3 linked regions of the Homo sapiens genome follow. The protein of the gene in region 1 purifies or fractionates together with the protein of each later gene. This does not show direct contact. Each region holds a gene or a part of one and is shown in the gene's direction. Other genes may lie near its edges. The genes, in order: KDSR, MFSD8 and TMEM238L.

What was found.
Region 2: the proteins of KDSR (region 1) and MFSD8 purify together in Homo sapiens (affinity purification with mass spectrometry; 2 studies listed by BioGRID and IntAct, with this or other methods). This does not show direct contact.
Region 3: the proteins of KDSR (region 1) and TMEM238L purify together in Homo sapiens (co-immunoprecipitation; one study listed by IntAct). This does not show direct contact.

What each region holds. Positions count from the first base shown.
Region 1 is NC_000018.10:63,353,625-63,357,279, reverse strand, and holds part of KDSR (3-ketodihydrosphingosine reductase), read left to right. Parts: intron 1-1,716; coding exon 1,717-1,782; intron 1,783-1,980; coding exon 1,981-2,076; intron 2,077-3,655.
Region 2 is NC_000004.12:127,917,216-127,920,239, reverse strand, and holds the end of MFSD8 (major facilitator superfamily domain-containing protein 8), read left to right. Parts: 3' UTR 1-2,435; downstream 2,436-3,024. UniProt on the Homo sapiens protein: Outward-rectifying chloride channel involved in endolysosomal chloride homeostasis, membrane fusion and function. Conducts chloride currents up to hundreds of picoamperes.
Region 3 is NC_000017.11:10,801,600-10,805,542, reverse strand, and holds the start of TMEM238L (transmembrane protein 238-like), read left to right. Parts: upstream 1-1,443; 5' UTR 1,444-1,579; coding exon 1,580-1,819; 3' UTR 1,820-1,937; intron 1,938-3,034; exon of another isoform or gene 3,035-3,144; intron 3,145-3,943.

The sequences.
Region 1 (3,655 bases):
GTGTATGCAGTTCTTCAACCTCACCAAAGTGGTTAAGCTCCCATAAGTAGGAATGCGGTTTCTGTTGCGCCACATCCCTGCCAATACTTGGTATTGACAGACTTTTTACTTTTTGCCTTTCTGATGAGTTTTGAATAGTATTTCACTGTGGTATTCATTGACTTTTTCCCTTCTAGAATGTTAGAGATCTTTCCATGTGCATTAAGTAAATTTGCCTTAAATTGCTGCAGCCTAGGATTGAAGTACACCAGAGCTTATTCCGTCAGGTCCCTGCTATTGAGCTGTTTCCATTCTTTTTATTTTATTTTGTATTTTTATTTTTGCAATTGCAGTCTGTGCTGCAAGTAAAAATCCTTGTGTATATCTTCTGCACATGTGAGTTTTTCTCTAAGACTGTGGTCTTTACCCCCTTCTCTGAAGCCCACAAGCATTGGAAAAACACCAGCTCTGTAAATTGCCCCGTTTTTTCCCGTATTCCTGTAATATCTGATAGACGAAGGAGTATGGTGTGAAGTCATGGAGTCAGTGTTCAGGGCCAAGGCCAGTCTTGCCTGCTGCCAACACTGTCTCCGCTCTGGGCTTCCTCATCATGACACCTTCTACCTCTTCATCTACCAAAGGACTTTAGGTCAGGTGGAAAACTTACCTTTCACATCAAGGAAGGGAGATAGGGCTGGGGCAGGCGAGAATGAGCTTGATCCTTCTGCCCTGCCAGGCTTCTAGGGACCTTTTGTGTGTGTGTGTGACTTGTTAACATTTTTTTGTTCTGAGATTTCACTTGTCTGTGGCATAGATTTTATTATTAGTAACTGATCTAATACTGCATGAAAAGGCTTGTTTTAAAATTAATCATATGATTACTACTGCCTTTTTTTTTTTTTGAGACGGAGTCTCACTCTGTTGCCCACGCTGGTGTGCAATGGCATGATCTCAGCTGACTGCAGCCTCTATCTCCCAGGGTCAAGCAATTCTCCTGCCTCAGTCTCCTGAGTAGCTGGGATTATAAGTGCCCACCACCACGCCAGGCTAATTTTTTGTATTTTTAGTAGAGACAGGGTTTCACCATGTAGGCCAGGCTGGTCTCAAACTCCTGACCTCAAATGATCTACCTGCCTCGGCCTCCCAAAGTGCTGGGATTATAGGCGTGAGCCACCGCGCCTGGCCGATTACTACTACCTTTAAAACAATGTTTTCTATCTGAGGATGTTGGGATAAAATCCACTCTAGGTATACATTACAACCAAGGGCAACCCCTCTAGACTAGAATGCTGCAGGTTATATTTGCAAAGAGGGCTGTTTCCTTTTCTTAGGAATTTTGATCATTTGGACAGGATTCCTTCTTGAAAGGAATCAGCACTGAGGCCCTTATATGGAATATTTCCATCACTCCCTAGGGTTGGCCTGTGCCCTTTCACAGTTCCTTCCATCCTCCATGCCTGGCTGTGGGCAACCCCTGATCTGCCTTCTGTCACTATAGATTAGTGGCATTTCAAGAGGAGCATTTATATATTTTTAAAAAGATTCCTCAGAGTTTTAACTCCAAAAGCTGCCAAGAAAATTAGATTCTGCTAATTGCATCATCAGCAAACACTGAAATCTGTTCATTCAATATTGGCTTCCTTCTGTATTCAATGAACTGTCTTTTCTTTAAAAAATATCTTTAAGAAATAGTTTGGTACCTGCAAAACTTTGATCACTTTTTTTCTTTTTTAACAGGTGGTGCTTTGCATATCAGTTGATGTATCTCAAGACTATAACCAAGTAGAGAATGTCATAAAACAAGTAAGAGGTTGGGCTAATTGGAATTCACCAATGTGCTTGACTTTTGATTTGTTCTTGCCATTTTGCTATGTGGCTTGGAATGGACACAACTTCTCTATAGGTTTAATAGTTTTGTAAATTTTATTTATCAGCATGGATTTGCTGCTGAGTGGTTTTTCTTCTCTGTTTCTTAATGCCTGCTCTGCTACATTTTTCTAGGCACAGGAGAAACTGGGTCCAGTGGACATGCTGGTAAATTGTGCAGGAATGGCAGTGTCAGGAAAATTTGAAGATCTTGAAGTTAGTACCTTTGAAGTAAGTAAAAATGTTTGCTCACTGCAGTAGCACATATGCTAAAAGCAGAGCAAGCTACGGGTAAAAGCTTTAAGAATCAATTAGATGAATGCATTCAGATGTCCATGGAAGCTTTAGAAGACTCTAGAGGAAGGCTGAACAAGGTGAAGCTGAACAAGGTTTTCATCCCAGTGTCAGGACCATTGAAGCTTAAGAGTTTAGACATTTTACAGCTGAGAAAACCAGCTAAAATGGGAATGGACCTTCTAATCTGACACAGATTACTGTAGCAGTTCACTGAGGTCATATTTTCAAGAGAACACTTTGTAACCTAAGAGATGCCGGATGTTCCTATCAAACATCAGTATTATTAACAAGGAGAAACCAAAAAAGTTGAAGGACAGACTCACTAGAGTTCTCAAATCAAGATAAAAAGATACTGCATCTTATTGATGTTTCTATTTTTAATCAGGTTTACCAAGGAACTTCTCTTGGTAATTTATTTCAGCACCAAAGAAATGAACACTAGATTTGAAATTTTTATTTTTTCTTTTTTTGAGATGGAATTTCACTCTGTCACTCAGGCTGGAGTGCAGTGGCGTGATCTCAGCTCACTGCAACCTCCACCTCTCAAGTTCAAGTGATTCTCCTGCTTCAGCCTCCCTAGTAGCTGGGATTACAGGCACATGTCACCACACCCAGCTAATTTTTTTTATTTTAGTAGAGATGGGTTTACGCCACGTTGGCCCGGCTGGTCTCAAACTCCTGACCTCAGGTGACTGGCCCACCTCTACCTCCCAAAGTGCTGGGAGTACAGGCATGAGCCACCAGGCCCGGCCTGAAATGTTTTTAAAATGGAAAACGTTTTTTAGTTGCCATCGCATCAACAATCTTTTTCTTCCTTTTTTTTGAGACAGAGTCTTGCTCTGTCGCTGAGGCTGGAGTACAGTGGCACGATCTCGGCTCACTGCAACCTCTGCCTCCCGGGCTCAAGCGGAGTGTCCTCCAGCCTCCTGTGAGGATGAAGCTGGGGAGTGTGTTGGTGTCTTCGTGTGCGCCGTCTAGACAGACTTTCCCTTAAACCTCTCTCTTTATCTAGACTTACTATCCCTAGAAACAGAACCTCCAGTCTCCTGCCAGGCTGGAAGAGGGGTACAGATCTACCCTGTGGAGAGGGGAAAAACATCTAAGATCTAACTGCCTTTTTTTTTCATTGTCCTACATTATTTTTTTAATTTGAAGTGAAATTCATATAACATAAAATTAACTGTTTTTAAAGTGAGCCATGCAGAGGGATTCAGCATATTCACAATGAGGTGCACCCACCCCCTCCGCCTAGTTCTAAAGCATATGCATCACCCATAGGGCGGCCCTCACCTGGTAAGCAGTTGCTCCCCATCCCTGCTCACCCCCACACCCAATCTCTGACAACCACCAATCTGTATTCTGTCTCTGGTCATTTCGTATGATTGGAATCATGATATGTGCACTTCTGTGTCTGACCTCTTTCTCTTAGCATCAGTTTTTGAGGCTCATCCACATGTAGCATATATGGGTGCCTCATTCCTTTTTATAGGGTGGTGATATTCCTTTGTATGGA
Region 2 (3,024 bases), on another chromosome or scaffold:
CAAAATTATAGAATTTTAAATACCTCTACCCAAGTAGAGGTATTTTTATTCAGACACCTACTTTTTATTTATAAAAAAATGCATTTTCTATTATCAAGTTCACTTATGAAATAAAAATTATAACACATATTTTCCATTTAGCGTGCCTAACATCCTACCTTGCCTTCTATGAGTCTTTCTTCTAATACTACACCTCTGCCTTATTTTAGTTCAGGGTTTCACTAAGTAACCCCTACATTAATAAATGAGTATGGATAATGCTAATATTTGAGCAATACAGAGGATTAAGAGATCAAGATACTTCACTGCCTATTAGCCTAATAGGGATACCTACTTTCTTTCAAATGCCAAAAATTCACATTAGAAACATAATCCAGATATGTGTTATTTTATATATATATATACAAAACAGTAAATGGTTTCTTAAAATTATTGCTATTTTTCAACCCCCTTAAACTGGAGAAAAACATTTAATTAGTAAAACATTAATTAATTTACTTTAATTTTTCCCATCTCTCAGTAGTGGCGGGGAGGAACACAACAGTTTTCAATCTATGTCTGCATAGTTGTGTAGAGCTGCAGAATTTTAGTTGGATTTTTAATTTGGATGATCCCTGACAGCCCCAAACTAGTCAGGCTAATAAGTATTTGAGGCAAAATGGCTTTAATCTAACAATTTACTGAGTTTACCTGAAGTTGGCTAAATAACACTGTATGTTTAACTTCTACCTCTACATAAGTTGAATGCTGATAAAAGGAACTAGTAGATAACTATGTATATTGATAAGCACTGTTAAGAAAATGCAAAAATATTTCTAAACACTTTTCCAAATGTTTTCTACTTTAAGTTAGAAATAGTTTCAAATCTGAGAATAAACACTATATAATCTGCACTTTATAGGTTGGGTGCAGTGTCTCATGCCTGTAATCCCAGCACTTTGGAAGGCCAAGGCAGGAGGATTGCTTGAGGCCAGGAATTCAAGACCAGCCTGGGAAACAAAGTGAGACCCTGTCTTTACAAAAAATAAAAACAAAAATTTAAAACTGTATAATCTGCACTTTATGCTAAACTAGCTGTGCTCTTAAACTCAATTTTTTCAGCTCTAATAAAGGGCTTAATTTGATAGAATTATTCTACGATTAAATTTTGAAGACTGTTTTCACTCTCCTCTGCCGCCCATAGCAAGACTGCTTCCATAGATTTCTCAGAACCGTAGCCAGTTCTGGCTATTTGGTCAAGTCTGGGATCCCTCTTACCTGCTATTCTGCAGCTGCTTTCTCTGTCTTACATTTTTTGGGCCACGTCTAATCTTAAAGAGTAAACTCTACCCTTGGTTTGCATAGTGTGCATGACAAAAATAACAAGAATAATGGTAATGATGAAAATGATAAGAGCAAAATTTGTGGAGTGCTTTCCACATTCCAGGTAATGTGTAACATACAATTTAATTCTTACAGCAGTCTTATGGAGTGAAAATACTATTATGATTCCCGTTTTACAGATGAAAGAATGGAGGCACAGAAAAGTTACTTGTCTAAGTAACAGTCTATCCTTAAAGTCCACAGTCTTAACCACTTGATTTTTCATAGTGAGGAAAATATCCCAGAAAGTTGCAGTTTCAATTAATCACTAATTGTAGGGTAATTTAACTATACCAGTGAGTCCTACTAGCAGAAATATTTGGGCAACATAAGCCCACTGACTGGAGCTTTTGTCTTAGCATAATAACCTGTTTCCAGCAAGAATATAACAGAAAAAAGTTTCCCAGCTTTCAAAGGTTTATAATATTGATTAAAATTTAGATAAACTTAACCTTACACAAATGACTCTTACTTTCCTTTTTATTGAGAGCATTTTCTTTGGAGCATTTTCTTCTTTGGAGGATTATACCTTGCTCATCTTGGCACAAAAGAAGGCGAAAGGAAGTAACATGGGATTGGGAAAAGAGCAAGGAGATAAAGTTTGAGGAAAAAAAATCACCATGTTGATGTCTTCTTGAGTAGGCCAAGTTGCGTATAAAGAGAAAATGACAACAGGAGATTTTAAGGTATGATATATTGTTAAGAGTAGTACATATTTAAGAAGAGAAAATATGTTTTTGAAAACAAATTTAAACTTGAAAGGATGATTTTCATATTTTGAAGGGATTTATAACTTCACAAAGCATCTCCATTCTATCTTGTTCAGCTTTACATTTAAAAATAAACTCTTCTTGTTCATATAAACCTTATCTCTTACATAAAGTGAAATCTGTTAATTTTTTGTTTTGACAAGGATAAACTACTTACCTGCATCTGTTTAAGAATAGATTAACTTATTTTGAGAAGAAATTCTGGGCACCATTTTTGACCATTGAAGACTTATTTGTAATTTAATTTCTACTTTACATTGTGAATGTTCATTTTCTAATAAACAAGATTATTTTGCATATGTACCTTAAGCTTTAAAACTTTATTCAGTCGTCTTTCAGTACATATTTAAGGGGGTACCCACTATGTGCCAATTACAATGTCATTTGGGGGATTGTGCGGTAAACAAAACACACAGAGCTCCGACCTTCATGAGGCTTATGTACCAGCAAGAAAGTCAGATATTCACAAGATGATTTCACAGATGATTATGATTGAGGGAGGGGTGATGAGAGAGAAGCATAGGGAGCTATGAGGGTGAATATGATTAACAGGGAACCTGACCTGAACAGGAGAGTCAGGCATGTTTCTCCAGAAGAAATGATTAGCCAAGACCTAGTGGAAGAGAAAATTTGGATTGGTGAAGAGTGGGACAAGTACTTTTCAGGCAGAAGGCAGTGTGTACAAAGCCCTGGAGGTGGGAAGATCTTGGAGCTTTCACAGAACTAAAAATAGGTCCAAGTTGGGTGGAGTATAGTGGTTGAGAAGAAGCCTAATTTTAGCTGAGTCTATAAAGGGACAATGCAAGGCCTTGCAGGCCCCAGGTATTAAGACTTCTTGTGCAACTAAGAGTTTAAGAGTTCTATTTAGGCATGGTTGGAGCTAGAATCCAAA
Region 3 (3,943 bases), on another chromosome or scaffold:
CAGATCCTAAGAGCTATGGTTTAGGTCATCCCCTGCCACCTTCCCCAAAATATTTTCTGAAAGTTTCTTTCTCATCCTGGCTTATTTTACACATAGAAAAATGAAGGCCGGGCATAGTGGCTCATGCCTGTAATCCCAGCACTTTGGGAGGCGGAGGCGGGCGGATCACCTGAGGTCAGAGTTCGAGACCAGCCTGGCCAAGTAGAGTTTGAAACCCCATCTCTAATACAAATACAAAAATTAGCCAGGCATGGTCATGGGCACCTGTAATCCCAGCTATTCCAGAGGCTGAGGTGGGAAAATTGCTTGAACTTGGGAGGCAGAAGTTGCAGTGAGCCAAGATCGCACCATTGCACTCCAGCCGGGGCAACAAGAATGAAACTCTGTCTCAAAAAAAAAAGGAAATCAGATCCACCTACTTATTCTCACCCTCTGGGGAAGGCAAAAGTGAGAGTGGAAATTATTTTCTTCATTTATCTGGGTAAACTGAGGCCCAGAAAGGTTTGGTGCCCTGTTCTAGCCTCCCTGTGAATCAGGGACAGAGGGGTGGCTGTCTGCAGCCCTGCCAAGGACTGCCGCTGCATTTTCCTCATTTGATGTTCACCCCCACACCCGCCGTGAGCAGCCACGGGGATAAGATCGCTCCCATCAATGTAGAAGGGATGCAGGCAGTGTCTGGAAGGGCTTACAGGGTCATCTATTATGAGAAAGAAAATGAACATAAAATGAGTTCATGTAGAAAACACAGAGGCAACAGGCCCCGGAAACATCCCTTGACTTTTGCCTGGGAATTGCCCTTTGGTCCACACAGAATCCACTGCAGGAAGAGGCCAGAAGTTTCTTCTCACCCTGTTGTCTTCTCTCTGTCCCCTCTGTCTTTTCCATCTCTACCCCTTTCCCGCCCTTATCCTTACTGTCCATTATCCTAGGGAACTCAGATCCTTCCGTCTGCAGAGTGAGGGCTCTACAAGAAGGCAAAACTTCTCTTGCTAACATGGACCAATTCTTACAGCAACGCTTCAAAATCGATTGATCTTACAAACTCTTGTCTATGTCCTTTACATAAAACCTTTTCCCCCAAGGAAGAGAGTAGGGCAGGGAGGTGAAGAGGAATGGAAACTCCACCACTCCACCCCGCTATACTAGATGAAGCAGCTGTGTCTCAGAAACAGGGCACTCAGGCTCTCTGGCTTCCAGGGATTAGAGAACAAGGCACAGATCAGCCCCTCCCCCAGAATCACAGGACCGCCAACTTGGCAGATGCATCCAAGGGCACCCTGACTCCTCTGCCACATGGATTGTAGGTCCCAGCGATGAGCAGCCCAATTAACAGTGATGTCAGACTGTTTGGGTCCAGATCATTCCTGAGCCATGAAACAGTTAAGAAATATCCTGCCCCACTGGCTGCCGTGCTCATAAAGGTAGACCCACGTGTACTTCCCTGTGGCTCCAAGAAGCGCCAGCTCGCTCATTTGCTCACACCCAGCAGGCAGAGAAGGCAGCAGCAGGCAGGACCGCCACCCTCCCATGCAAATCACCCCCGGGAGTGCAGCTGGGCTCCTCCCGCTCCTCCTGGGCAATGCTCCTGGGGAGTCTGTGGGGAAGATGCCATCCAGGGCGCTGTGCGCTCTTCCTCATCCTCGCCCTCCTGCTGGACGCGGTCGGCCTGGTCCTTTTGCTGCTGGGGATCTTGGCCCCCCTGAGTTCCTGGGACTTCTTCATCTACACAGGTGCCCTGATCCTGGCTCTCAGCCTACTGCTCTGGATCATCTGGTATTCCCTCAACATTGAGGTGTCTCCTGAAAAACTGGACCTGTAATTTGGCCATGGGAAGAGGAGAAGAGACGCAGGTGCTGTATGCAGACATGTCTGTGAACCTGGGGCTCTTGGGCAGCAACACGTTGCAGCTTCCACCTAGCAAGCCACGCCGGGACCAGGTGAGTGCACACAAGACCTACCTGGCAGGGTGGCCAGAGAGGCTTGGACAAGCAGGGGCAAGACCAGGCCTCCTGAGGCTGCATAAGCAAATAGCCAGACACTGCACCCTGACTGGGGATCCTGTGGCCCTGGCCTCAGGTCCTGCTGGGGTGGCCAGCCAAGAGGACGTGGGGCAGGTGTTTTCTCCTCCGGGCCCTTTTCCTCGCAGAGGCTGGAAAGAGAGTCTCAACAGCCCCTTCCACCCCTGATATACCACGAATGATCCTGGCTTCTGGGCACAATGGGAAGTTATCCCTTTACCTCGGAACTTGGGGACAAAAAGACCCCATCTGCATTCTCTGTTGGGAAGAATCTCTGCTGGGGAGAAAAGTCTTTAGCACAGGAGAGGACGGAAAGTTCCCCAATGACTCTTGTGCCCTTGCATACATGAAGGGGTGTGAACTGGGCCACGGTAAAAGCAAACAGAGCAGAACCACCCAGAACGGCCCCTCTCGTTCACTTCCTCCCTGCACCTGCCCAGATGGGATACAAGAAGCGGGGTAGGGACTACTCGCCTCCATGCCCACTCAGTGCACACACCTCCTCTCTCTGCAGTATTCCCACCCCACCCTCACTCACACTCACACGCAGCCAACACATGTGCCCAGCCAGTCTCCAAGGCCCAGAAGTCAAGACAGTTTGGCTTCATGGATTTCATCCGCTGAGTTGCATGTCACAGCTCAGTCTATCGCGTGCAACCAAAGAGGCAGAGAGTTGTAAGATTTTTTCACATCAAGACAGAGTCCCAGAGATAGAGTGGTCTGGTCCTTACAACCCTGAATTAGAGATGGACAGCTGTCTCCAGGGGACTGAAGTCAGAGCCACGGTCCATTGGGCAGCCATACCCTCCTCCCCAGGTGGGCCCAACCTGCACGCAGGTGTATCCAGGCACTCCCGTTTCTTACTCCCTTACCAGAAGTAAGAGCAAAGGTCGTTGCTGAGTTGAAAGAAGGAAATAATAATTGTGTCTTTTGTGGGGGATTACACCTGACTCTCAGAACTCAGAGAAAAGAGAAGCAAAATGAAGAGGTCTCAGTAGAGTAAGGTAAGCCCATACCTAGGAAATGATGTAGAAACAGATGAGAAGTCAGTCCCACTCTGATCTTCAGCACTTGTTAGCTGGGTGTTTTTGGCCAGGTTGCACACTCTGAGCCTCAGGATTCTCATCTGTAAGATGAAGAGAATATTTCTGGCCCTTATTGCTGCAAGGATCGAAAAGAGATAAGGCAGGGAAAGGCTGTACAATTGATGTGGTTCTTACACCAGATGTCAAGCATACAAAACACATAATCTGGGATGAGTTAACTGACCCAAAGTCCAAATGTGAAGTACCTTGGTGTCTCTCAAATTGGTAGTGATGGGGGTCAACTCACACTTTGCATCAGGAAACTTCAGAGCAAAAAGGGTCCCTGATTTGTGTGCTGGTATGTTGGAATGTGTCAGGCACTGTGCAAGACACTGGGGATAAGAAATGAGACACATGGACCAGGCACAGTGACTCATGCCTGTAATCCCAGCACTTTGGGAGGCCGAGGCGGGCAGATCACTTGAGGTCAGGAGTTCAAGACCAGCCTTGGCAACATGGTGAAACCCCATCTCCACCAAAAATACAAAAAATTAGCCACGCATGGTGATGCACACCTGTAATCCCAGCTATTCAGGAGGTTGAGGCAGAAGGATTGCTGGAGCCCAGGAGGCACAGGCTGCAGTGAGCAGAGATTGCACCACTGCATTCCAACCTGGGCGGCAGAGTGAGACCTGTCTCAATTAAAAAAAAAAAAAGACACATGACGTGGGGGCTCTACTCTCAGGGAGTTTACCATCAGGTGAGAAAGACAGACACTCACCAAAGATTCACACTTACAAAAGTACAATAACAAAGTCAGGTCTGCTCTAGGAAGGAGAGGAGCATCCTGCCACAAGAATATTCAATAGAGAAACTGACTCAGAAGATGGAGTCAGGGAA